Regions from separate parts of the Homo sapiens genome. Here region 1 is linked to region 2. Evidence: fine-mapped QTL for protein levels in blood plasma. A gene starts in region 2. The other region holds a variant in brackets. All regions are shown on one strand. Distances are between the middles of the regions. Region 1 holds the start of LOC124903282 (a long non-coding RNA gene). Region 2 holds the start of RNASE6 (ribonuclease A family member 6).

Region 1 (12,715 bases), 65 kb before region 2:
TCCAGGATCTGGATTCTGAAGCGTTATATTAATGCCAGGCCATTTTTAAAAAATATTACCTTAAGTTACCAAGGTCCTGATTTTCCCATGAACAGTTTTTCATATACGTTTGTAAATGTATCTAATCAGTCCCCTGCAGGGGTGATACTCACTAAAGTAGCCCAGAAGTGCTAGAGATGGGTAGCAATCCACATACCCAGCAAGCATCTTAGTGTAGACTATCTGCATAATGTTATGCCCACTGTAGAAATAGACTAGTTTTAGCAGATGTCAAAAAAGTTTACTCATTATGATAAAGAATAACAGAAATTTAATCCTATAGTACAAAAAGATTTTTCTTAAGCAGTAGCTTCAGTTCTCCAGTTGGCTCACAAGTCCAACCAGGTTGATTGTCTGCTGTGTCAGGTTGGGGAGGGGCGATTTTTACCGAAATGTGATGTATGCGTGGTTTGACTCCAGCCAGCTTAACAGATGAATGAGTAGTTAATAAAACATCATAATGACCTGTCCACTTTTTGGCTGGCTGTTGTTGGTCCAGTCCTTGTTTTTACCAAGATTTTAGCGGCACTTTATCCTTGGATGAAAAGGGTGAAGGGGCTTTTTTGTAAGACACATAAAACTGGAAAGAACAAAAAGAACAAACTTGTGCAGGGTTAGTGATTTATGTCTTAGTTGTTGTACATATTGTTTAATTCTTGATTAATTTATTAAGTCCAAGGGTGGGGTCCCTGGCCAAGAACTTCAGAAGGGTCTCCCACACACAATTTCAAAAAGGCTTAATTTAAGCCCACTTCAGGGTGCTACCCCAATCCATAGCAGGGCAATAGGTAAAACCCTTTACCATTTTAAATCTGTTTCCCGATAGAGTTTTGCCAGGGGTTTTTTTTGGTTTTTTTGTTTGTTTGTTTTGTTTTGTTTTTGTTTTTGTTTTTGTTTTTTAGCATGTGGATCATCTTTTCAGTCTTTCCAGTTGATTGTGGCCTCCAACAAGAGTGTCATTTCCATTTGATCTGTAATGCTTGGCTTATCCTTTGTGTGATCTCAGAAATTAAAGAAGGATTATTGTTGCTTGGTATGGAGTAAGGAAGTCCAAATCGAGGAATGATTTCTTTTAGCAGAGCCTTAGCTACTTCTGCAGCTTTCTCAGACTTGTTCGGATAGGCTTCAATCTCTTGCTCGGGTAAGCTTCAACCTTTCCAGAAAATGTGTCTACAAACACTAGTAGGTACTTATAAATCCCAGTGTTTTTGGCATCTGGGTGAAATCAACCTGCCAGTCCTCGAATGGTCATATTCCTTTGTATTGTATCCTCCTCTGGGAAGAGTTGCATGCAGTTCTTGAATCATTTGGGGTATATAGATAACATGCTTGTATAATCTTTTGAATGATCTTTTGAAGGTGTGGCCCTTTGAGATATGGCTACACCAGGTGAGCCAGTCCATCTCTGCCATAGTGTGTCCCCTCATGCAGGTCTTTCAGGACTGGGTATACCAGGGCCTCAGAGAGTAATATCCCATGAGTGTTAGCTTTCCATGAGGAACAAGGGTCTGTGTTGGTCAATGTCCACTCATGTGTGCATTCTTCATTTCATTCAGTGTAGTGGAGTTTAAATTCTGACAAGTTTAAATGGAGTATTAAGGTCCCAAGTAAATATGTTTCTTGAGTGGCCTGCTTTGCAGCTTTATCAGCCACTTGATTCCCTTTGGTTATTGGGGAGTCATCCTTTTGGTGGCCTTGGCAGTGCATAATAGCAACTTGAGTTGGCAGAACAACTGCCTCTGACAAAGCTAAAATTTCCAGCAGGTGTTTAATGTCTTTATTTCTTGAGGTTAAGAATCCCCTTTCTTTCTGAATGACCCCACGGGCATACACTACCAAGAAGGCATACTTGGAGTAGGTGTAAATGTTTACCCATTTCTCTTGAGACTGTTTTAAGGCCCTGATGAGAGCAATCCATTCAGCTTTTTGTGCTGAAGTACCAGCAGCGGGGACATAGGCTTCTACTACTTTGTCTAGGGTCACTGGAGCATACCTGGCCTGGCGTTGTCCTCCTTCTGTGAAACTGCTTCAGTCAGTGTATAGCTCCCAGTCCGGAGTGGCCATCAGATGATCTGACAGATCTGGTCTGCTGGAATAGACTGCATCAAGAATTTCTAAACAATTATGCTCCAGTTCATAGTTGGACTCAGTGGCTGGGAGCAAGGTGGCAGGATTCAAGACTGTGGTGGTTTGGAGAAAACATTTCTGTTATCTAATAGGCTGGCTTGGTATTTGCCCATATGCCCCGCTATCATCCAGTAACCTCCCTTTTGTTACAATAAGGTTAACACTTGATAAGGCACAAATGCAGTAATGGGCTGTCCTAGGGTGAATTTTTCTGCTTCCTGTAAGATATCACACGTAGCTGCCACGGCCTGAAGACAAGGTGGCCATCCTCTGGTAATCTGCTCCAGTTGTTTGGGAAAGTAGGCTATGGGTTGTGGGGAATTCCCACGTAGTTGAATTAGTATTTCCTGTCCTGTGCCCTGGTTTTCATGGATATAGAGTCTAAATAGCTTTCAAGAATTGGGCAGTCCTAATGCTGGAGCTGACACTATTTTTTTTTTTTTTTTTGATGGTATCAAATGCCTGAAGGCATTCAGCCATCCAGTTTAGGGCTCCTGAATCTAATCCCTTTAGAGCCTTGTAGAGAGGTTTGACTATGAGTCCAAAATTAGGGATTCAGATTCAGCAGAAACCTGCCACACCTAAAACCCCCCACAGTGTCTTCCATTCCCAGGGGCCTTTATTGCTGCTATCACCTGTTTCTGGTTGGACATCAAGCTCTGCTTTCCTTGTTTTTAGTCAGAAGCCAAGATAGGTCACTTCTTGTTTACAAATCTGAGTTTTCTGAGGTGATATGTTACGTCCGTATTATATCAAATAATTTAAGATTAAGATAGTGTTAGATAGGCACCTCTCATAGTCTTGGCTTGCGATTAACAAGTCATCCAAGTATTTTAGCAGAACCCCATCATCTAGTTGAAAATCTCTGAAGCCCTTTGCCAATATTTTGCCAAAGATGGTGGGTGAGTTTTTAAAACCTTAAGAAAATACAGCCTAACAATATTGGAAGGTGTTTTTTGTTTCCAGGTCTTGCCACTCAAAGGTGAACAGCATCTGGTCCCTCTCTTCAATCAGGATGCAAAAAAAAAAAAAAAAAAAAAAGTATCTTTTAAGTCTAATACCGAAAACTACCCATACTGCCCTGGTTTATCAGTTAGTAAGGTGTAAAGGATGGGCATAGTTGGGTGAATGTCTTGAACAATGTCATTAATGGTTCCCAAATCTTGTACAAATCAATATTCATTTGAGTGTGGGTTTTTAACAGTCAGGATAGGGGCATTGTATGGAGATCTGTAAGGACATATTTGTCCATTTTTTAGAAACTTCTGTAATATAGGTTGTATCCCCTCTAAAGCCTCTCTTTTTAGAGGGCACTGTGTTTGGGGAATACCTTAGCCCCTTCATTTATTTCTGTGCACACAGGCTGTGTATTTTCAGCACTACCTGTGGTCCCATCTGCCCTCATGACTACTTACTTGCTCACAGATTGCTGGCAGGAGGCATTCTTTTTCTTCCTCGGGGTGTGTGAGCAGCATCTGCAGCTGCAAAGCTTGCTCTGGCAGGACCTGCAGATGAAGTTGTTGTTTTTCTGGAGAAAAACGTCACATGGCAATTTAGTTTACAAAGCAAATCTCACTCCAGCAAAGGAATTTGGTATTCCAGCATATAGAGGAAACTGTGTCTCAGCTCCAGATCTCTGTGTCCGGCAGTCTCCAGACTCTCCAGGGTCTGGAGAAAGGCTGTTTGCTGCATCTTGCCAGCGACAACCATCACAGGCACTGTTTTCCTAGTACTTTCAGTTTCTTTAGTGTTTCTACCTGAATAAGTCACACCAGTATTGATTAAAAAGTCAATCAATTTGTTCCCCATTGTCAATCGTACCTGAGGTTCCTGTGGGGAAATTACAACCTGCTCCAAAAGATTTGGGCCTCCTTCACTATCTGAGCTACAGTCCTGCTTTACCATCAGCCAGTATGTTTCTTCTCTGTCACTGTGTCTCCCTTCTTCTGGTTTCCCTGTCTTTTCTTTAATTTGGGGCACTCAGATTTCCAATGACCTTCCTCCTTGCAGGGGGCAGACTGATCATTACCTAGAGTTTTGTTCTGGCCACCTCCCTGTGCCTGGTTTTTCCTTTTCGGATATACATTCTTTCCACTAATTCCAAGTATATCATGGCTTGCTTTAGCTTTTTGGCCTTCCTGGCATTATATACTCTGAAGGCAATGTCCAGCAGTTGGGAAAGGTTTATTCCAAATACCCCCTCCAGTTTCTGCAGTTTTCGTTTAATATTGGATGAAAGTCACGTTTACCATTCTCATATTCTCAGGAGCTTCTGGATCATAGTCCATACACTTGTGGTAAACCTGGTAAATGCACTCCAGAAATTCACAGGGGTTCTCATCTGCCTTTGGGAGAACTGCCCTGGCTTTATTTAAGCTCTTTTACATTCTTCTCTTTAACCCTGCCAACACATGCTTTTTATAATGACTGGACAGGGCCATTCCTCCATTGTTGGGGTCCCAAGTAAAATCTGCAAGTGGAGCAGCCATTTCTATTCCTTCCCCATCCTGGGGAGAGGAGCTGACACCTTGGCCTCTCCGGGTCCTGGGCTACATTTGGTAATCCTGGGAGGGCTGGTGCCCCCAGTACCACATGGGAGGGGAAATTTAAGATATTTATGAGGCCCATATCATCAATATCCTCTTCCTTTTGGGTCTTACTATCTGGAAAGAGAAATCTCTTTTTCCCTTTTCTCTACGTCATTCACATAGACCCCTCATGTGCTGAGTCTTTGTTATGTAATAAATGCTTAAACACATGGAATCTCATTTCATTTCCCAGATCTTAGGCAAAATAACGCCAACTGTAATAAGGTGTACTAATGTAAATCACTGTTCAGTAGCCACCATTTTTCAGATTCCAACACATACATAGGCCAAACAGTGTTACAATGAAAAAAAATCATTATCTTTTTTGTTATGAGTTCATAGCTATAAGCTTTCCAATAAGCCAATATACAGCCCAATGGCCACTTAGATGGAATGGAAGTCAAGTTGCCCATTCTCAGGGGAGAGATCAAAAGAACACAAACACACAGATCAACACAGAGTACTCCTGAACCAATTCCTGTAGAAGGAGACTGGGAAGTTAATAAATCTTAGGCTAACTGATACTGCAAAAGACCTGTGTCAGGTCCAAATGGCATAAAGCCCAAATGGCAGAGACAGAGGATTTCTAGCATGCAAACTGGTTTGATTTACCCAGTCTTGAATCCTGTCAACTTCCTCAACTATCATTTTCCTTATACTAATAAAGCATTGCAGGCAGCTGATGCCACAGAGGGGGAAGGAGGGAAAAGATGTTCTTGGCAGCTGCTGGGACAACCCTAGAATCCCAGCTGGGAGGTCAGCTAGCCACGAGCAGCTAATCCTCATGAGAAGTTGTTGCTCTGCCTGGTAGCATGAATGAGTAAGCCCTGGCATGATGCCACAGCCAATTGCTCCATCCATCGGAAACCAGGCACGCTAGACCAGTAGAGACATATAGCCCCATGCTGGGTGATAAAAAATGTAACCAAACTGTTGGAAGTAAGTGCTCGGTGCCACAGAGTGAAAATAGCACTCAGGCAAAAATTTTCTCAGCAAAGCAATTTACTTCTATAGAAGGGTGCATCTCTCAGATGGAGCAATGGTGAGAGCACACCAGACAAGGGAGGAGAAGGGCGTCTTATTCCTAATGCAGCTAGTCCCTACTGCTGTGTCTTTCCCCTGTTGGCTAGGGTTGGACCACACAGTCTAAGCTAATTCCAGTTGGAAATTTTAAAGAGAGTGAGTGTATGAGCTGGAGTGGTGGGGTGAGTAGTTT[C/T]ATCAGGGAAGGACAGTTACAGAACAGGAGAGTAAGGATGCCTAAGGACAGAACAGGTGATAGAGGCTAGGAGGGGGTTGTTTACTGAAACTAGAGGCAAGGAGGTGTAAAGAACAAGGAAGTTAAACTTCAAAATGGAGAACAAAGAACAGGGAAGCTGAACATACTGACGTATTTGTTCTTTGAAGAGGAACTCAGAACTCATTGTACTTAAATGATTTTTTTCTCCCTCTTGAATTTTTTTTTTTTTTTGAGATGGAGTCTTGCTCTGTCACCCAGGCTGGAGTGCAGTGGTGCAATCTAGGCTCACTGCAAGCTCCGCCTCCTGGGTTCACGCCATTCTCCTGCCTCAGCCTCCTGAGTAGCTGGGATTACAGGCACCCGCCACCACGCCCGGCTGATTTTTTTGTATTTTTTAGTAGAGACAGGGTTTCACCATGTTAGCCAGGATGGTCTCAATCTCCTGACCTCATGTTCTGCCTGCCTTGGCCTCCCAAAGTGCTGGGATTACAGGCATGAGCCACCACGCCCAGCCACCATCTTGAATTTTAAAGGAAGTTAACAGGCTAACTCTGAAGAGGAATTTACTGTATCCTACAATCTCCCCCCTTTCAATTTTCATAGGCCTTCCTCTTCAAACCTTTTTAACATGTCTTGGCTTTGCTGCTTGACTTGATCCTCTAAAAGAAGAAAGCTTTTCTGAATAAGGTGGAGGAAAGTTAAGGGAGGTTTTAGTAGGTGCTGTTTCTTTGCACTGCCCCACGGACGCATGGTATGACACAATACCCAACAAGAATGAGTACACCTATTACGGCTGCAAGAGAAGTAAGAATCGAGGCTATGATCTTTTCCATCTACTGAACCACCTTTCTAGCCATCCTGAGAAAGGGTTATTGACTCCAGAATCTTTAACTAATTCATTGGATAAAGCAGTAAGTCCTTGTAAGACCCTTGTTATGCTCCCAGTGGGGGCAGTGTTGCTTGGGATAAAGGTACAGCCCTGAGTTTTAATCATAACACCAACACTGCCTTTTTCAGCTAATATCACATCTAGGGCCATTCTGTTTTCCCAGGCCATCTGGCTAGTGGGCCCCAATTGTTCTGCTATCCCTTTGACAGCATCCCTGGTGTAATTAATAAACCACTGCTAATTATAATAGACGTAATTTATCCAATCTATGTTTTTATTAATTGTCACCCACAAAATCCTGCAGCTATTTAATCTTGACTCAAATCCTGCAGCTATTTAATCTTGATCTTTAAATTTATCTGGTACTCCTCATGGGACTCCAATTGCATCTAAATAAATGTGGGAGTTGAAAGACCCATAAGGAGCTTCCCTTGTTTTATGATGTTGTATTTTTCCTCTCTCTGGTTGATGAAATGCTAGGGTGGAAGGGATAGCCAATTAAACTAGAGCACAAGTGCTGCTCCAGTTACTTGGCAGAGAGTCCAGTAAAGGTCCACCACAATACCACCATACATATGCTTGGGGATGAACAAGGGCTGACTGATTGGTAAGCTCTTGGAAAGTCTTAAGCTCACTGCATCTTTTTAGGTCTCCAAGGAATGCTAAGTTTCCTCCCTGTAGTGAGAGATATGAAGTGAACTTAGCGTCAGGGGACAGAAGCTGAGTGGACCTTGGGGGCTGACCTGCAGGGTATTGAACCTCAGGATATAGCAGAGAGAGCTTGACACGACTTTTTACCCCAGGCTGTGTAATCCTGGAAAAAAGTAACCATACAGCCCATGCCTAGTAGACTAAAGGACTATCCTAATGGAAAGGGGACAATCTGGGCTTCTGGTCTGCCGTGCGCACAAGCATAACAAATGCTTTTGTTTAAAGTGTGGATGGAATGTTTGATCCACTCCAACCAGGCATTAGCATCTTGATATTCTGTCTCAATTGCCAAAGTTTGTTTTAGGTCTTTAACTTCTATAATAACTACCTTGGTCTTGTCATTAGATGGAGGAGAACAACAGTTTTGTTGTGAGAGCTTCTGGAAGAAGGCTTAAGGGAAGGTGTAGGCGGCAGAGGATCAATGAATTGTGTTTCAAAGGATCTGATAGGGTCTGTTCCTGAAACCTCAGCCCCCACACCATAAAACCGGCTTAAAGAAGGGAACCGGCTTAGAGAAGGGGAAGAGCTTTGAGGGTTTGAGATAATAACCTGTATTGGATTGCACGGTTCAGCTGACAGCTAGGTGAAGCTGTTCCTTTAGTAAAGTGAATATATGACTTTAGGAAATTACAACCACTGGTTGGGGCAGCTCATCCTTGCTCTTTAGTGGTCCACAGAATGTTGGACCAACTGTGGCATAAAAGCTCTGTCTTGCAGGAGCAAGACTCCCAGCTGATACTGGGGTCTTTATTGAAATCTCTCCAGACTAAATGATCCCCATTCACTAATGTCCAGTCTGAGGAGAGCCGGGAAGGACAGAGGTACTTTTCTGAATTGGAGAGCTGTCTTTAACTTGACAAGTCTCCACAAGGTATAACAAGGCAAGCATCAAATGTAATAGTTTGAGGTGAAATTGACTTTGTTACATTAATAATGAGGTGGTCAGCAATAGAATGAGGAAAGAAGAAGGAGTAATAAGAGAGTTAAATTTTTCTTAGCTTGGCTCACGCCTGTAATCCCAGCACTTTGGGAGGTCGAGACAGGTGGATCGTTTGAGGTCAGGAGTTCAAGACCAGCCTGGCCAACATGGTGAAACCCCATCTCTACTAAAAGTACAAAAATTATACAGGCGTAGTGGTACACGCCTGTAATCCCAGCTACTCGGAAGGCTGAGGCGGGAGAATTGCTCGAACCCGGGAGGTGGAGGTTGCAGTGAGTGAAGATCGCACCACTGCACTCCAGCCTGGGCAACAGAGCAAGACTCTGTCTCAAAAAAAAAAAAAATTTCTTAGCTTTAGTTTGGTAGGGTTTTCCCCTGGGACTATGGCCCACGACTCTGGAGGGGGCGGCACTTTCTTGACTTGGGTGTGATAGGTCCATCCTTTTTCTGCTGTCTGGACTGCGCTTTCAGTAGTTAGGAGCACTAGATAAGGTCCTTCCCAGGCCAGTTCCAGCTTTTCCTCCTTCTAGTTTTTGATGAGGACTTGATCCCCGGGCTGATTTCGATGTACTGGGAACTCCAGGGATGGTGCCTGTGCTAAAAGACCTTTAGTTCTAAGGGAAGAGAAAGTGGAAGATAAACCAAGTATATAATGTCTGAGAAACTGATCTTTTGTTTCGAAGGTGGAAATGTCAGCAGTGGAGTGTAAATAGGGCAACCCATATAGCATCTCATATGGGGATAGGCCAACATCTTTTTGAGGGGTGGTTCAGATTCCTAGCAAGGCAATGGGAAGGCATTTAGTCCATGGCAACTGAGTCTTTAAGACTAATTTGGTTAAGTGACTCTTCACGGTTTGATTTATTCTTTCTACTCTTCCCGATGAAGGTGGGTGCCAAGGAGTATGGTATTCCCACGTTATGTCTAGTGCTTGGGCTAATTTCTTAATGATATGTGCAGTGAAATGAGTTCCATTATTTGAATTAATATTTTCAATTTATTTGCCCAGATCCATTGGAGGAACCACTATCTATGACCGCTATAGTCTTATGAAATGTATTTCTGAAGTAATAAGACTTGAAAGCCAAAATTACTCCTTGATCCATGGGCTGCAGAACTGCAGAACGGATGTTGTGTGAGCAGGCATGGAAACTATGGAAATTAATATCTTTGAACATCTCCATCAGAGGCCTTAGGTAACCAAGTGCATTGCCAATCAGCAGTAGTATTTTGAAAGGAATCTTTTTTTTCTGAGCAGGTCTCAATAATGAGCTTAAAATATTCAGTAAACCATGATGTAAACAGATGTGCTGTCAATCAGGCTTTGTTGTTCCATTTATAGAGACAGGCAAAGTAGATTCAGCATAATTCCTAAGGGCCCTAGGATTTTCAAATGATACATGAGCACTGGCTTCAACCTGAAGTCTCCAGTGGCAGGTGCCCCCTGACAAGAGAGTTGGCCTGCCCTCTGAAGCTCTGAAACCAGGCACTGACTCCTCCTCTCTAGCTATGGGAGTCCCAGATGGCACCTTCTTCCACTATAAAGCTGTCTCATCTACACTGAAAATCTGTTGTTTAGTGTGGCCACCTTCATCAATGATCTTATCTAGAGCTTCTGGAGAACTTGCTGCAGCTTCTCCTCAGGACTTGCTGCTTCATCCTGCACTTTTATGTTATGGAGATGGCTTCTTTCCTTAAACCTCACGAACCAACCTGTGTTGGCTTACAACTTTTCTTCTGTAGCTTCCTCACCTCTCTCAGCTTTCAGAGAATTGAAGGGCCTGATCTGGTTTTGACTTTGGCATAAGAGAATGTTGTGGCTGGTTTGGTCTATCCGAACCACTGAAATTTTCCCCGTGTCAACAACAATAAGGCTGTTCTGCTTTCTTATCACTTGTGTGTTCACTAGAGCAGAACTTTTAATCTCCTTCAAGAACTTTTCCTTTGCATTCGCAACTTGACTAACTGGCTCAACAGCATTTGGCCTATCCTAGCTTTTGACACGCCTTCCTCACTAAGCTTAATCATTTCTAGATTTTTAAAGTAAGAGACATGTGACTCTTCCTTTCACTTGAACACATAGAGGTCATTGTAGGGTTACTAAATGGCTCAGGGAATAGGGAGTCCTAAAGACAGGAAGGTGGGGAAGCCGCCAATCAGTGGAGCAGTCAGAACACACACATTTATCAATCAAGTTTGCCATCTTCAGTTTGTGGCACCCCAAAATAATTACAATAGTAACATCAAAGATCACTAACCACAAATTACTGTCAGATATAGTCATAGAAGAAGTTTGAAATATTCTAATAATTACCAAAATGTGACACATGGAAGCACTAAATGCTGTTGAAAAAATGGCGCTGACAGATTTGCTCAATGCAGGGTTGCCATAAGCCTTCAACTTGTAAAAAACACAGTATCTACGAAGTGCTATAAAGGGAAACACAACAAAACGAGGTGTGCCTGCACAACCAATGCCCAACTGTGTGTACCGCCTGAAGGAAAATGTTTCAAAGGTATCACAACTTTTTAGTCTGGAAATCTGAACAATATTTTGGTTTTTCACAGTGAGCATGTGGAACTTATATAACCAAAAAAGTAAAGTTGTATTTGAATGCATGTGGGCTACAAGTAAAAAGGAAGATGAAATAACAGTTTTATAAAGCGGAAAGATTTATGGGTCTAACTCTGTGTCATATTTAGATTTTCTAATAAATGGGTATAGGAACAGAAGGAGAGACAGAGTTAGATAAAAGGTGTAGACGGTAGGCTTTGCTGCTTCGAGAACTTGGTGCTGATTAGAGGTGTGATTGCATTCATGGTAATAGGGATGAGTGTCACGAACTGCTGTGTGTTCTGCTGGTGAGCTTCACTGCAATACTGCACTAACCAGTGAGTGTAAGCCTGCAGCACAGCCAGGGACTGAGCACGTACATCAATGAGGTCAGGTTTCAATACTGATGGCACATCAGTTTCAATGTTGCACAATTTTTTTTTTTCTTTTTTGAGACGGAGTCTTGCTCTCTTGCCCAGGCTGGAGTGCAGTGGCACGTTCTCAGCTCACTGCAACCTCTCCCTCCCTGGTTGAAGTGATTCTCCTGCCTCAGCCTCCCGAATAGCTGGGACTACAGGCACGTGCCACCGTGCCCACCTAATTTTTTGTGTTTTTAGTAGAGACAGGGTTTCACCATGTTATCCAGGATGGTCTCAGTCTCCTGACCTTGTGATCCACACACCTCGGCCTCCCAAAGTGCTGGGATTACAGGCGTGAGCCACCGCACCTGGCTCAATGTTGTACAACTTTATCTGAGATCCATACAGAGTGACTTTGACCAAACTCTCCACAACTGTGAGGGCATCATTGAACCATGCAGCAAACACATCCCCAATAAAGTACCCGGCCAGGTGGCCCATGGCCTGCAGCAGGGAGCTCAAGTCTCTCAGGGAGCAGTGCAGCCACCAGCAGTCGTTCTCTGCCATGATGTTCAACCTGTGTCCTGACCCTGATGTAACTATAACTTGCTGTAATCCCAAATAAACTTCTAAATTGCCCTGAAGAACTGGGAACAGTGTGGACAACGTGTGCGTGGGCAGGAGCTCCATCACTTTGACCGCCACCTCCAAGCTCTGCCGTAAGTACCGCTGTCACTCCATCTGCTGATCGTCATCCAGAGTCTCGTCATCCAACTCCTCCAGCTGGCCTGGTTGTATCTGAACTGGATTTGATTCAACACCTCTGTGGGGAGGAGCACCAGGGCATCTTCGTACCTGTTGAGAACTGCTTCCTTGTCTTCAAGATGACTTTTAATTTTATTTGTCAGATAGTCCAAAAAGAGTGTCCAGTATCCAAACAAGAGAATTAACCTTCATGAGTAGGCTGATGAAATGTGTACTTGAACAAAAGTGTCAAAAACTCCACCACAGAGAACTGGGAGTAAGACTCGATTCTTCTTAGGTGAACACTCACAAAGAGCCAAAGAAAGTCAGTAAACTTCTCAATAAAGCTCTCATCGAGCTCTTCTAGCCTGCTCTTCACTGTGTGGGCATTGTTATCCTTGGTGATCTTCTGCAGGAGGTAGAAAGTCTGCTGGAACATAAGCAGTAAATACTCCTCGAACTCCATCGGCACACAGCTCTTGGAAATGAGTTCACTGATGCAGGGCATGGCCAGGACCCCCGGCCGG
Region 2 (12,715 bases):
GCAGGTGGATCATGAGGTCAGGAGATTGAGACCATCCTGGCCAACATGGTGAAACTCCATCTCTACTAACATACAAAGAAAAACATTAGCCAGGTATGGTGGCACGCCCTTGTAGTCCCAACTATTCAGGAGGCTGAGGCAGGGGAATCGCTTGAACCCAGAGGTGGAGGTTGCATTGAGCTAAGATTGCGCCACTGCACTCCAGCCAGCCTCAAAAAAAAAAAAAAAAATTGGTTCACAAGCAGGTTAAGTGGATTGTGCCACTGACTCCAGCCAGCCTCAAAAAAAAAAAAAAAAAATAGGGTTCACAAGCAGGTCGAGAAATTCTGTTTGCTAATTGCAGGAGTGAGATGCAAAGTAAGAAATGTTTACTTCATACAATTCTCCCTGGAGCAGTATGGGCCAGGGAAAATGCTAAACAATAAAGTACCTTGTGTTCTTCAGACTCCTACAATGTGGAATGACTCTGGCCTTGAAACAATTAAAGAAAAACCAAAGTGTCAACATTATTTATTAAGTGACTGCACACTTTCCTATAACTCTAGTAGCCAGCGTATAAGGCAGTTCCTCAGCTTTGCAATTTTTGAGTGCACCTGGGGAGGAGCAGACACCTGGGGATGACAATCTCTACCAACCAAACTCAGAAGAGACTAGTATTAAACCAGTAGCTCTGCATGTAGGATCAATATACATATGAGAAGAAACAATACTGTTTGTTTTTCTCAGTTGACAAACGCTCTTCAAAATGTATGTAGGGAAGGAAAAAATTTTCCTTCTACCCCTTTGGTTCTTGGCTGGGGCCACCGAAACAAAAGTCAGATTAACAAGAGAAAAATAGAAGTTTAGTAACATGTGCATCTCATGCATACATGAGAGAAATTCAGAAAGCAACTCAAAGAGGTGGCTAGAACTTGGGCTTAAATGCCTTCCGCTAAAGCAAAGGAAGAAGCATGTCGGGGAGCAACTTACAGGGGGATGACCAGGAAAAGTACAGTAAACAAGGGAAAGCTTTCTCATGCAGATTTAAGTCAGTACCTTCTCCGCTGATAAGGGTTTCTTTTGATTTAGAGTCACCTTTCTCTTTCTGGTGAAGAAAGGGAGACATCCTTACAAATGAAGATTTCCCTTATAAACGCAAATGTCCCTTACAAAACAGCAACGTGCACTCTATTTTCAGAGTTTGTCTTGTGTATACTGCTTCTCAAAATAAGCAGTTCAAAATAATATTCATAATAAAGAAGCATATTTTGGGGTGGCATATTCTGGTCTCCTATAGTAGATTCTCACAAATACCTCATTTAAGTAACTCTTTAAAACTTGCTTTTATTAAAGGGTTAGCAGATGGTTGTTCAAAATAGTATAGGAGGAAAGTAGATTTAAGGGCAATTAGTAATAGCTTTGTGTTGTTTCTCTGGCTTTCCCGGTGGTCCACCCCTTATTTGGATAGCTGCATATTGACTCTCCTTAGGTATCTACCCTTCCTCTTTTGTGTGTAGTATTGGTGAGGCTGTCCACTAAGGTCTGCAGTCCCCTCTACTGAGCCAAGCGATGGTTATGAGATCCAAGCTAGCCTAACTGAAGTCTCATAGGAAACAAGAATATGTCACCCCAAAATATGCCTCCAGGTTGAAAGTCCTGTCAATTAGCATTTTTGCTGCTCTGCATCCTTACTGGCTTTGATGATGTCAGTTTTCACTGCATTTTAGTCATTCATGTAGGTGTGTAGTATTATCCCATTGTTTTAATTTGCAATTTTCTAATGACAGATTGAAGGGATTCACAGCCCACCAATATGGCAAAACTGCCCTTGCAGAGTTATGGAGTGTTGCAAGCCAGGCTCTAGGCAGAATTGCACATTAATCATAGCATGCTGGTACACTTCAACCCACTTCCCTGTAGCTTCTAATTTCCCAAGTAGCATGCTGACCACCTACTCCCCGATTGTTCCTATAGGTAGAATCTCCAATACTAGAATCATGAAATCTTTTTGCTTAAGAATTGCTTAAGGTGTTTTTCTGATCCTGAATTCCAGTGCAACAGCTAATGCTAACCAGTCTAAAGACCCCTACCAAGGAACTGGCTTGGCACATGAATGCTGAGTTTCTTCATGTCCCTGTCCCATGACTTCACCTCTCACTTCTTGATGAATCAGAAATGCTCACATTTTGGCCCTTGTCCAGACTCCTTAAAAACCCTATCCCCAAACCCAAAACCAAATTGTAGGTTACCTCCCATCTACTCATTTGGCTGCCCTATGAAAATTAAACTCTCTCTTTTTCAATCCCTGTTTTCTTAATATATCCATTTGTTGTGCATCAAGTAACAAATCTGTTATGATGATAGTGGCATGAAAATTATTTTAAACTGAAAATGTCTGAACAGACAGAAGCTGCAGAAAGAAACACTATTTAAACTTAACCAGAGCCTCTTGAAAATTCAGCTGCCATTGATCCCCTTCAAAGGTATTTTCCTGTTTGAAACGAGACAGCCCCTTAGCACTGGGATGTGTAAATTAGCTTCCATAAACCCCCATACAGGGAAACTTCCAGCCAGGAAGAAATCAATCTACCCATTTCTATTAGCATCAGAAAGCTTACTAGAACCTTCCATATTTTCCTTTTGAAGCCCCAACAAAAATCTTTTATTTTTTATTTTATTTTATTTTTGAGACAGACTTTCACTCTTGTTGCCCAGGCTGGAGTGCAGTGGCGCAACCTTGTCTCACTGCAACCTCCGCCTGCCAGGTTCAAGAGATTCTCCTGCCTCGGCCTCCCGAGTAGCTGGGATTACAGGTGCCCACCACCATGCCTGACTAAATTTTGTATTTTTAGTAGAGACGGGGTTTTACCATGTTGGCCAGGATGGTCTCAAACTCCTGACCTCAGGTGATCTGCCCACATTGGCCTCCCAAAGTGCTGGGATTACAGGTGTGAGCCACCATGCCCGGCCAAATCTTTTTTTAAAAAATAGAGATGGGGGTCTTGCTATGCTGTTGGTTTCAAACTCCATGCCTCAAGTGATCCTCCTGCCTCAGTCTCCCAGAATGTTAGGATTACAGGCATGAGCCACTGCACTTGGCCAAAAACACTTTTTTTAAAGTTGATATATAACTTTACCTCTGGCTATTCAGCAAGTTACGCATTATGTAATACTCCTGTGTGCATGTGTAAATAAACTTTGAATTTTCTCCTATTAATCTTTTTCTAATTCACAAGCTCCTTTACCACCACCTTTAAAACCTAAAATGATAGAGGAAAAGTTTTTCTCCAAACAATGTGATGCTGAACATCTTTTCATTGCTCATCTGCCATCTGTATATCTTGTTTGGTGAAGTGTTGGGGTACAGAGAATCATACTACAAACTATGATGCATGGCATTCTGAGCACTTTTGAATTAAAGAAATTAAATTAAAGAATTAAATTTAACTAGAATTAAAGAATTAAAGAAACCAAAACTTCTTAGAAGCTGCCTCAGGACCAAAGATGTTCTAATCTTCTCTCATTCCTCCCCCAGCTCTCAAATGCAGAGAGGAGCTCTCTCTGGAAGTTCCCTTGTCTGGATAAGGAAAACTTCTTCCAAGAAATGCAATTGTCTTAAGACCCCCCTTTCTAAAAATCTCATCAGATAACCAGGAAATATTAGCCACCTGAAAAAAAGAAGAGACTAGAAGTCTCTTCACACCACACTCAGATAGACCTTTCATCTATTCTTCCAAGAGCAGCTCCAAAAGAGTACCTAAGAGACTTTATCTGTATAATAAGGCAACCTTTGTTCATAGTGCAGTTCCACCCTTCACCTTCCCATAACTCGTCACCCTTCCATTCAGCTTCCAAAGAGACTCATTTACAAACTATTGTCTGCTATTTGGGGCCAGTTCCCTAAAAAATATTTAAAACTCCTCAAAATTGCCTACATTTTCCCCATGTTCCTCTCCCCTATGAAGAGAATACATGAATTTCAACTATTTAGTCTTTCTTTGAGTCTCATAATTTGTATGGTTCCCATGATTATGCACAGTAATAAATTTGTATGCCTTTTTCTCCTGTTAATCTGTCTATTGTCAGTTCATTTCAGAAGTTTTGAACCTTCAGAGGGAGAGGAAAAATTGTCTTTGCCCCATACCATTCAGATGTTTTGCCCATTTTTCAACTAGGTTGTTGGTTTTCTTATGGTTGAGGTTTTTTGAGTTCTTTGTATATTTTGGATAATGTTCTTTTATCAGATATATCTTTTGCAAATATCTTCTCTCAGTCTCTGGCTTATCTTTTTATTCTCTTAATAGTATCTGTTGCAGAGCAGAAGTTTTCAATTTTAATGAAGTTCCACTTATCAATATTTTTCTTTCATGGATTGTGCTTTTGGTATTGTATCTAAAAAATCATTGCCAAACTCAAGGCTGCCTAGATTTTCTTCTATGTTATTTTCTAGAATTTTTGTAGTTTTGTATTTTGCATTAGGTCTATGGTCCATTTTGAATTAACATTTGTGCCAGGCGCGGTGGCTCACGCCTGTAATCCCAGCACTTTGGGAGGCCGAGGTGGGCGGATCACCTGAGGTCAGGAGTTCGAGGCCAGCCTCACCAACATGGTGAAACCCTGTCTCTACTAAAAATACAAAATTAGCTGGGTGTAGTGGTGCATGCCTGTAATCCCAACTACTCCGGAGGCTGAGGCAGGAGAATCACTTGAACCTGAGCGGCAGAGGTTGTGGTGAGCTAAGATCATGCCATTGCACTCCAGCCTGGGCAACAAAAGCGAAACTCCATCTCAAAAAAAAATTGTGAAAGATATAAAGTACAGGTCTATGAAAATGTATGAAGTCTAACCTATGAAAAGATTTATTTTTTGCATGTGTACATTCAGTTCTACTACCATTTGTTGAAAAGACTAACTTTTCTCAATTGAAAATTGATCCTTTGTCACAGATTAGTTCACTGTATTTGTGTGGGTCTACCTCTGGGCTTTCTACTTGGTTCCATTGACCTATTTGTCTATTTTTCACCAATAACACACTGTCTTAATTGCTGTAGCTTTATAGTAAGTTTTGAAGTTGGGTCACGTCAGTTTTCTGACTTTGTTCTTCTTTTTCTGCATTGTGTTGACTATTCTGAATCTTTTTTTTTTTTGAGACAGAGTCTCGCTCTGTCACCCAGGCTGGAGTGCAGTGGTGCGATCTCGGCTCACTGCAAGCTCCACCTCCCGGGTTCAAGCGATTCTCGTGCCTCAGCCTCCCAAGTAGCTGGTACTATAGGCGCCCGCCACCAGGCCTGGCTAATTTTTTGTATTTTTAGTAGAAACGGGGTTTCACTGTGTTAGCCAGGATGGTCTTGATCTCTTGACCTCGTGATCAGCCTGCCTCGGCCTCCCAAAGTGCTGGGATTACAGGCGTGAGCCACCGTGTCCAACCTGAATCTTTTACTTTTATATAAACTTCAGAGTCAGTTTGTCACTATCCACAAAATAATGTGCTGGGATATTGATTGAGATTGTGCTGAATCTATAGATCAAGTTGAGAGGAAATGACATCTTAACATATTGAGTATTCCTACTCATGTACATGGAATATCTGTGCTTCCTCAATTTCTTTCATTAGAGTTTTAAATTTTTCCTCATACCAATTTTTACATAATGTATTAGATTTACACCTAAGTATTTCACTTTCTTTGGTGCAATATAAATGGTATTGTGTTTTAAATATCAAATTGCAATTGTTCATTGCTGGTATATAAGAAAGCAACTGACTTTTGTATATTAACCTTGTATCCTGCAACCTTGCTATAAACAGACATTATGTTTATTCTGCAGACATTTGGAGCCATAAAAGCATGGGGCAAGAGTGTTGTACTATTATATCTTGTTCAAAAAAAGACTAATCTGGAAGTAATATGTAGAATGGATTGGAAGGAGAAAAAAACAAGGCAAGGAGTCCATGTGGGAGGCTTTTATGTGAGCCCTCCATAAGACAATGAGTTTCTGAATAAGGGTGTTGCAGTACCAGTGAAAAGGTAAGAACAGATTCAAGAGGCAAATATCCTAAATTCGGCCTTCTTCTTCAGGCTTACAGGTCTTTTCATACACAATTCTGTCTTTGGGAGGCGCTTAACACTCTCTTCACCTAACTTCTAATTATTCCTCAAAATTCAGTTCAGGTGTTGTGCCCTCCAACAATCCTTCCCCTCTACTATCTTCCCGTAGCCTCCTGCAGTGTCCTCCATCACACTGTAAGTGCTATTTATATTAATATAATCTACTTGTCTATATACTTACCTGCCTGTCTCTAATCTCTTTCATTAAATCATGAGCTCCTGGCAGATCACGAGGTCAGGAGATAGAGACCATCCTGGCTAACACAGTGAAACCCCGTCTCTACTAAAAATACAAAAAAATTAGCTGGGCGTGATGGCAGGCACCTGTAGTCCCAGCTACTCGGGAGGCTGAGGCAGGAGAATGGCATGAACCCAGGAGGTGGAGCTTGCAGTGAGCAAAGATCGCACCACTGCACTCCAGCCTGGGCGACAGAGCAAGACTCCGTCTCAAAAAAAAAAAAAAAAAAAACTCATGAGCTCCTGAATTTGTGTAGCCTAGTACCTGGCCCAATAAGTATATGCATAAATGAATAATGTATTCACTTCTGTTGTAGGAACTTACAACATTACCAAGTATGTGGCAGGCATTATATCATATTTATGTGACATATTTTCTCTTAAGAAACAGGAATCATAAAGCTTCAAAAAAAAACACTGAAGCCTCAGATGAGGCAGGAAGCACTCATTCCATATCAGGAAGTGATCAGTTCCTCAAAACTGTGAGTTTTCAGTCATGTTGTTTCTTTAAGTTGGTTTAGCCTTCCTGTATACATGTGATAATGATACTGTTTTAAAGAACAGGTGTGAAAGTCTAAGAGTTTAATCCAGACTCTGCACAAGAAGTTAATCTGCCAAACCCTAGGATTCTCCTTCTGAAAGCTCAGAATATTTCTTCCCCTTCCCTATACACACAGGGCTCGAAGGGTTAGAGAAGAAAGGCAGACAACAGCTTCTGAGCTTTGGACTAATCACAGCCTCTGTTCTCAGCAGGAGCCCCAACACTGAGACCAGGTAAGAAAGAAAGCCTCAGGGCTGGAGCGAGTAGAGCAGTAAAGACGGCTGGGAGGTAGTGGTCAGATAGAGGGTAAATATTTCAGGAGGGAAGAGGGAAGAAACTTTCTGATATGACAGCCATCAAATGCATGAGTACTTGTGAAAGAAAATGGGATATGCCAATCAAAGGAGAGGTCATATTTCTGTTTCCTGGGCTTCAGGTTCTTCATAGAATTGTGAGACTATGTGAGAAAGAAGATTTTAAAGGGAGCTGTAAAATCTTAAAAGGCAAAATAAAAATCTAAATAGTTATGATTAAAAATTTTGCTCTTATTGCTTCTCCTACTATAACTATCTTCTCTCTTTCTACACAGAAAAGATGGTGCTATGCTTTCCTCTTCTTTTACTGCTGCTGGTTCTATGGGGACCAGTGTGTCCACTTCATGCTTGGCCTAAGCGTCTCACCAAGGCTCACTGGTTTGAAATTCAGCATATACAGCCAAGTCCTCTCCAATGCAACAGGGCAATGAGTGGCATCAACAATTATACCCAGCACTGTAAGCATCAAAATACCTTTCTGCATGACTCTTTCCAGAATGTGGCTGCTGTCTGTGATTTGCTCAGCATTGTCTGCAAAAATCGTCGGCACAACTGCCACCAGAGCTCAAAGCCTGTCAACATGACTGACTGCAGACTCACTTCAGGAAAGTATCCCCAGTGCCGCTATAGTGCTGCTGCCCAGTACAAATTCTTCATTGTTGCCTGTGACCCCCCTCAGAAGAGCGATCCCCCCTACAAGTTGGTTCCTGTACACTTAGATAGTATTCTCTAAGGCATCCACTGCATTTCCTTTCATTTGACATAGCTTCTGTTACAATTGCATCCATGTTTTCTTTTCTTTTGTTGATTTTCTTGTTCCCGTAGAAGAAAGAAGAAAGGTGTTTGGAGAATTCGAGTGCCTAGGATGCCAGACCAGAGTTGAGACAAAAAGAAATAAGATTATTTTCTGCTTTGTAGTTCTGTACTTTTCGAGAGAAGGGAATAGGGAAGACAGCAAAGAAAGATTCAGATTTCTAACCCTGCAACTTTTGCCAAGCTTTATTGCCCTGTGTTCACAGCAATAAAACCACTTCCTGCTGCATTCTAATGAGTGTGTGTTTGAGATCCGCTTTCAAAGCATTGTTGACCGGTACTCAGAGGAACACTGTTTTGACTTTAAGTCCCTAGAAAACTTTTGAGGCCTCCCTGGGGCCCCACTTCCTTGCCCACAAGAAAGGACAGCGTTTGGGACTTTGGAGCATTTCTTCAAACTCTGCTCATGACTTTATATATTCCCCTGGAAACCATTGTCTATGCTTAATTGGAGGTAGTACTGATACCTCAAAGACAGTTGATGATAACTCACACATAGATTCTGTCACTGGCAACTGAAGGATCCTATGTCTTTTCTATTTGTTTCCGTTTTTAATCAGATAATGTTTTAAATATAAGGTGATAGTAGTAGTAATAGGGATAATAATCCATTGTAGTAACCTTAGGGTCAATCCTCCATTATTTATTGAAATGGATAAATAGAAAGCATAGATCAAGAAAAAAGCACTAGGCTTGTCGTGGTGGCTCACGCCTGTAATCCCAGCACTTTAGGAGGCTGAGGCAGGTGGATCGTCTGAGGTCAGGAGTTCAAGACCAGCCTGGCCAACATGGTGAAACGCTATCTCTACTAAAGATACAAAAAAAGTAGCTGGGCGTGGTGGCAGTGCCTGTAATCCCAGCTACTCGGGAGGCTGAGGCAGGAGAATCGCTTGAACCCAGGAGGTAGAAGTTGCAGTGAGCAAATATTGTGTCACTGCACTCCAGCCTGGGCAACAGAGTGAGACTCCCATCTCAAAAACAAAAAAAGAAAAAGAGAAAAGCACCAGGAGACCCAATGCAGTGGCTCACACCAGTAATCCCAGCACTTTGGGAGGCCGAGGCAGGCAGACGACTTGAGGCCAAGAGTTTGAGACCAGCCTGGCCAATGTGGTGAAACCCCATCTCTACTAAAAATACAAAAAATTAGCCAGACATGATGGCAGGAGCCTGTAATCCCAGCTAATCAGGAGCCTGAGGCAAGAGAATCGCTTGAACCTGGGAGGCAGAGGCTGTAGTGAGCCGAGATTGCACCACTGCACTCCAGCCTGGGTGACAGAGCGAAACTCCCGTCTCAAAAAAAAAAAAAAAAAAAGGAAAGAAAGAAAGAGAAAAAAGCACTAGGAAACTAAAAACATTCTAGTCCTATGTAAATACTGAAATACCACAGAAGTATTGGGGTTTTGGAACAGAACCTGAACTAAGCCATTTCACAGAAGGAACTTCAGTTTCCTTGTCAACCTCTAGAGTCATTGGGCTAGTGGGCCAGTGTAAATCCCAAGTGCTTTGTACAGTGATGAGTCTTCAAGTAGCAGCCAAAGACAATGAAGTTTTTTTGAAAAGGCTACATATTGTAGTGTCTTCATTACCTGTGCTGCAAATGATTCTTTCCAAGCCAGACTATTAGTTTAATAGATATGCTAACTCAGCTCACCTTCCTTTACGCTACACATTTATGTCATATCTTAGGAACAAAGAATGGAATATGAGGTTTCAGGAGCCTGGATTCCAGGGTGATGACTGATCAAGGGCCCTCCCATTGGGAAGAGATTAGCAGGTCAGGGCAATATGGCACCTAAGAAGGTGGGTACCTTATAGAGGGAATCCTACAGTGGGACTTGAGTGCTCTAACTCAAAGCAGCTTTCAGTTGTATTCAGCTTTAAGCCATGTTGCATTTACATTTTATTGTCTCAGAGTCTTCATGTAAAGTGTGGTGGAATGGCAGGGAGAATCTGTGCTCACGTTTGGTATGAACAAGTATACGAAAGTAGCAGCATCTGAAAGGAAAGGGGTTGAATGGATTTATATGAACATTACCTGGAAATTGCCAGAGATTCTTAAAGGTAATCTAGTAAAACCAAACAACTCAATTGCTCATGCTATTGTTATTTATATAGTAAAGGTATCTCATGGATTGAATACATCTGTGCTGCAAAAATTTTTCAACTGTCAGAAACATTAGGGAACATGAAATGTTACTTAAAATTAGTGAAATAAATTGTGAGGTCTAAAATACTGCAAATATTTTGTAACAAATGGTTAAAAACAAAAATATAATGAGTGCCATCTTTTGAAGAGATTTGCAGCAACAATATCTAATCTTCCCCACCCTCCCATGACAAACCTATCCCCAACAACAATTAGAGTCACTTTTTGTTGCTGATCAAGGAAAAGGCAACAATGAGGGTAACTTTTCAACAATCTATTATGCCCAAACTTTTAGAAGGTATTAGTTCTAAACAAGTGGAATAGACTGGGATGGAATCTCTCATAGATTTATTTTCTTTTCTACATGCAGTTATGTATTGCAGAAGTTCAATACATAATTGCTAAGAAGTTCACTTAGATATATCCCTAGAATATACAGAATGATCCCAAAGCAGGCAAAGCTTAGAAGTGAATTCAGCAGATGTTCTAGCAGCTCTCAACTCTGGCTTCATATTAGATTCACCTGGGAGCTTTTAGAAAAATACCAATGACGGGATCTACTAAATAAATTTTATGAACATTTAATGAACAATTAAATGAATATCTGGGGGTGAGACCTGGGCTCTAATGGATGTTTGTTAAAGATCCCCATGTAATTGTAATGGGCAGCAAATATTGGTAACAACTGTTGATGCAGGGGTAAGCAAACTACATCTGCAGACCTCTGGCCTGCCGCGCCTATTTTATACTGCCTGGAGTAGTGTGGTTTTTACTTTTATTTTTTTTTTTGAGATGGAGTTTGGCTCTGCCGCCCAGGCTGGAGTGCAATGGCTGGATCTCGGCTCACTGCAACCTCCACCTCCTGGATTCAAGCGATTCTCCTGCCTCAGCCGCCTGAGTAGCTGGGATTACCCGCCACCACGCCCAGCTAATTTGTTTGTTTGTTTGTTTGTTTGTTTGTTTGTTTTTTGAGACGGAGTCTCATTCTGTCGCCCAGGTTGGAGTGCAGTGGCGCGATCTCAGTTCACTGCAAGCTCTGCCTGCCGGGTTCACGCCATTCTCCTGCCTCAGCCTCCCGAGTATCTGGGACTACAGGCGCCCGCCACCACGCCCGGCTAATTTTCTGTATTTTTAGTAGAGACGGGGTTTCACCGTGGTCTTGATCTCCTGACTTCGTGATCCACCCGCCTCGGCCTCCCAAAGTGCTGGGATTACAGGCGTGAGCCACCGTGCTTGGCCGATTTTTACTTTTTTAGGGGGAGAAGAAAAAGGAGGAGGAAGAGGAGGGGGGGAAGAACAGGAAGAAGGAAGGAGTAGAGACGTGAGGGAGGGGAAGGAAGGGGAAGAAGAGGAAGAAGAAGGAGAGGAAGTGACACAGACCCTATGTGTTCCACAAAAGTGAAATATTTACTGTCTGGTCCTTTATAGAACAAAGTGTGTTGATTCCTGGTCTTCTAGACTATTCAATGGATCTTGTCCTTTGGCTGTGGCTGAGGCAGGTGGCTGGAATTCAGTAGGAAGGACGACACCTGGCAGGCTGAGAATTTTGAACTGGGGCCTCAGGAAAGTAATGATTTTTTTTTTTTTTTTTTTTTTTTTTTTTTTTTTTGAGACGGAGTCTCGCTCTGTCGCCCAGGCTGGAGTGCAGTGGCGCGATCTGGGCTCACTGCAAGCTCCGCCTCCCGGGTTCCCGCCATTCTCCTGCCTCAGCCTCCCCAGTAGCTGGGACTACAGGCGCCCGCCACCACGCCCGGCTAATTTTTTGTATTTTTAGTAGGGACCGGGTTTCACCATGTTGGCCAGGATCGTCTCGATCTCCTGACCTCGTGATCCGCCCGCCTCGACCTTCCAAAGTGCTGGGATTCCAGGAGTGAGCCACCGCGCCCGACCGTAATGAATTCTTAATATTCCTTTCTGTGCCCTGTTTCAGTCTTTTTCTGCAATGTACTCATTTCCTCTGCTTTTCTTTTTCACACAGTAAGTAGACAGTCATCCCTTTCCATCTCACTTTCTAATTTTCTCTGAAATATTATTTATTTTTGAAGGGATTCTGACTGATCCCATCCATAGATCAGACATGACCATCGGACAGAATCACATTGCAAAAAATAGCTTCCAGGAGCCTTTCTTGTGGACCATGCAGAAGAGAGGCTTAGAGAGAACTGCCCTTAAGGCTGGCCAAATGGGGTCTCTGGCCTCGCCTGTTCCTCAGGCACCCCGTTGCATCTTGGAATACCCTTCTCAACATTTTCTAAGTCTCTCATCAGTGGCTGCAGTCAGCCCAGGCTGGTAGTGCCTGGCCTGAGATCCGCATGGGATCCTATTCTCTTTCTCTCCTTTGGGGCTTTCTCCCACCCTCAACCCTTCCTTCCAGCACAGGAAGCCCTAAGGAGCTTCAGGACTCATGTCTGTAGTGTTGTCTTGGGGCCAGGACTGGTTCCAGGTGAGTTAGCCCTGGTTAGAGATGTCATAGTTCCCAGAGAAAAGGGGCTAGATAGACAATTCAATACTTTTTCTTTAACCACACAGTGTGGAAACAGAAATTGAATAACAATGTACTCTTGAGGAATAGAGGAAA

What was found. PIP is the posterior inclusion probability: the model's chance that the variant is causal. Protein levels are from antibody-based Olink assays in UK Biobank. Linkage for the fine-mapping came from a reference panel and not from the study's own genotypes, which makes the PIPs less certain.
Region 1: its variant is fine-mapped to the plasma level of the RNASE6 protein (UK Biobank, PIP above 0.99).

What each region holds. Positions count from the first base shown.
Region 1 is chr14:20,709,500-20,722,214 of GRCh38, forward strand. LOC124903282 (a long non-coding RNA gene) reads right to left here and starts at 6,224. Exons shown (of 2, transcript XR_007064061.1): 1 at 3,582-6,224; 2 at 294-2,219. It also overlaps the pseudogene RANBP20P. The variant C/T (reference allele first, on the strand shown) is at 5,971.
Region 2 is chr14:20,774,242-20,786,956 of GRCh38, forward strand. It overlaps RNASE6 (ribonuclease A family member 6), which reads left to right and starts at 7,027. Exons shown (of 2, transcript NM_005615.5): 1 at 7,027-7,097; 2 at 7,454-8,226. The coding sequence starts at 7,459. The coding sequence ends at 7,911. The region is part of intron 1 of LOC107984671 (a long non-coding RNA gene); the gene reads right to left. RefSeq lists enhancers at 694-1,297, 8,102-8,171.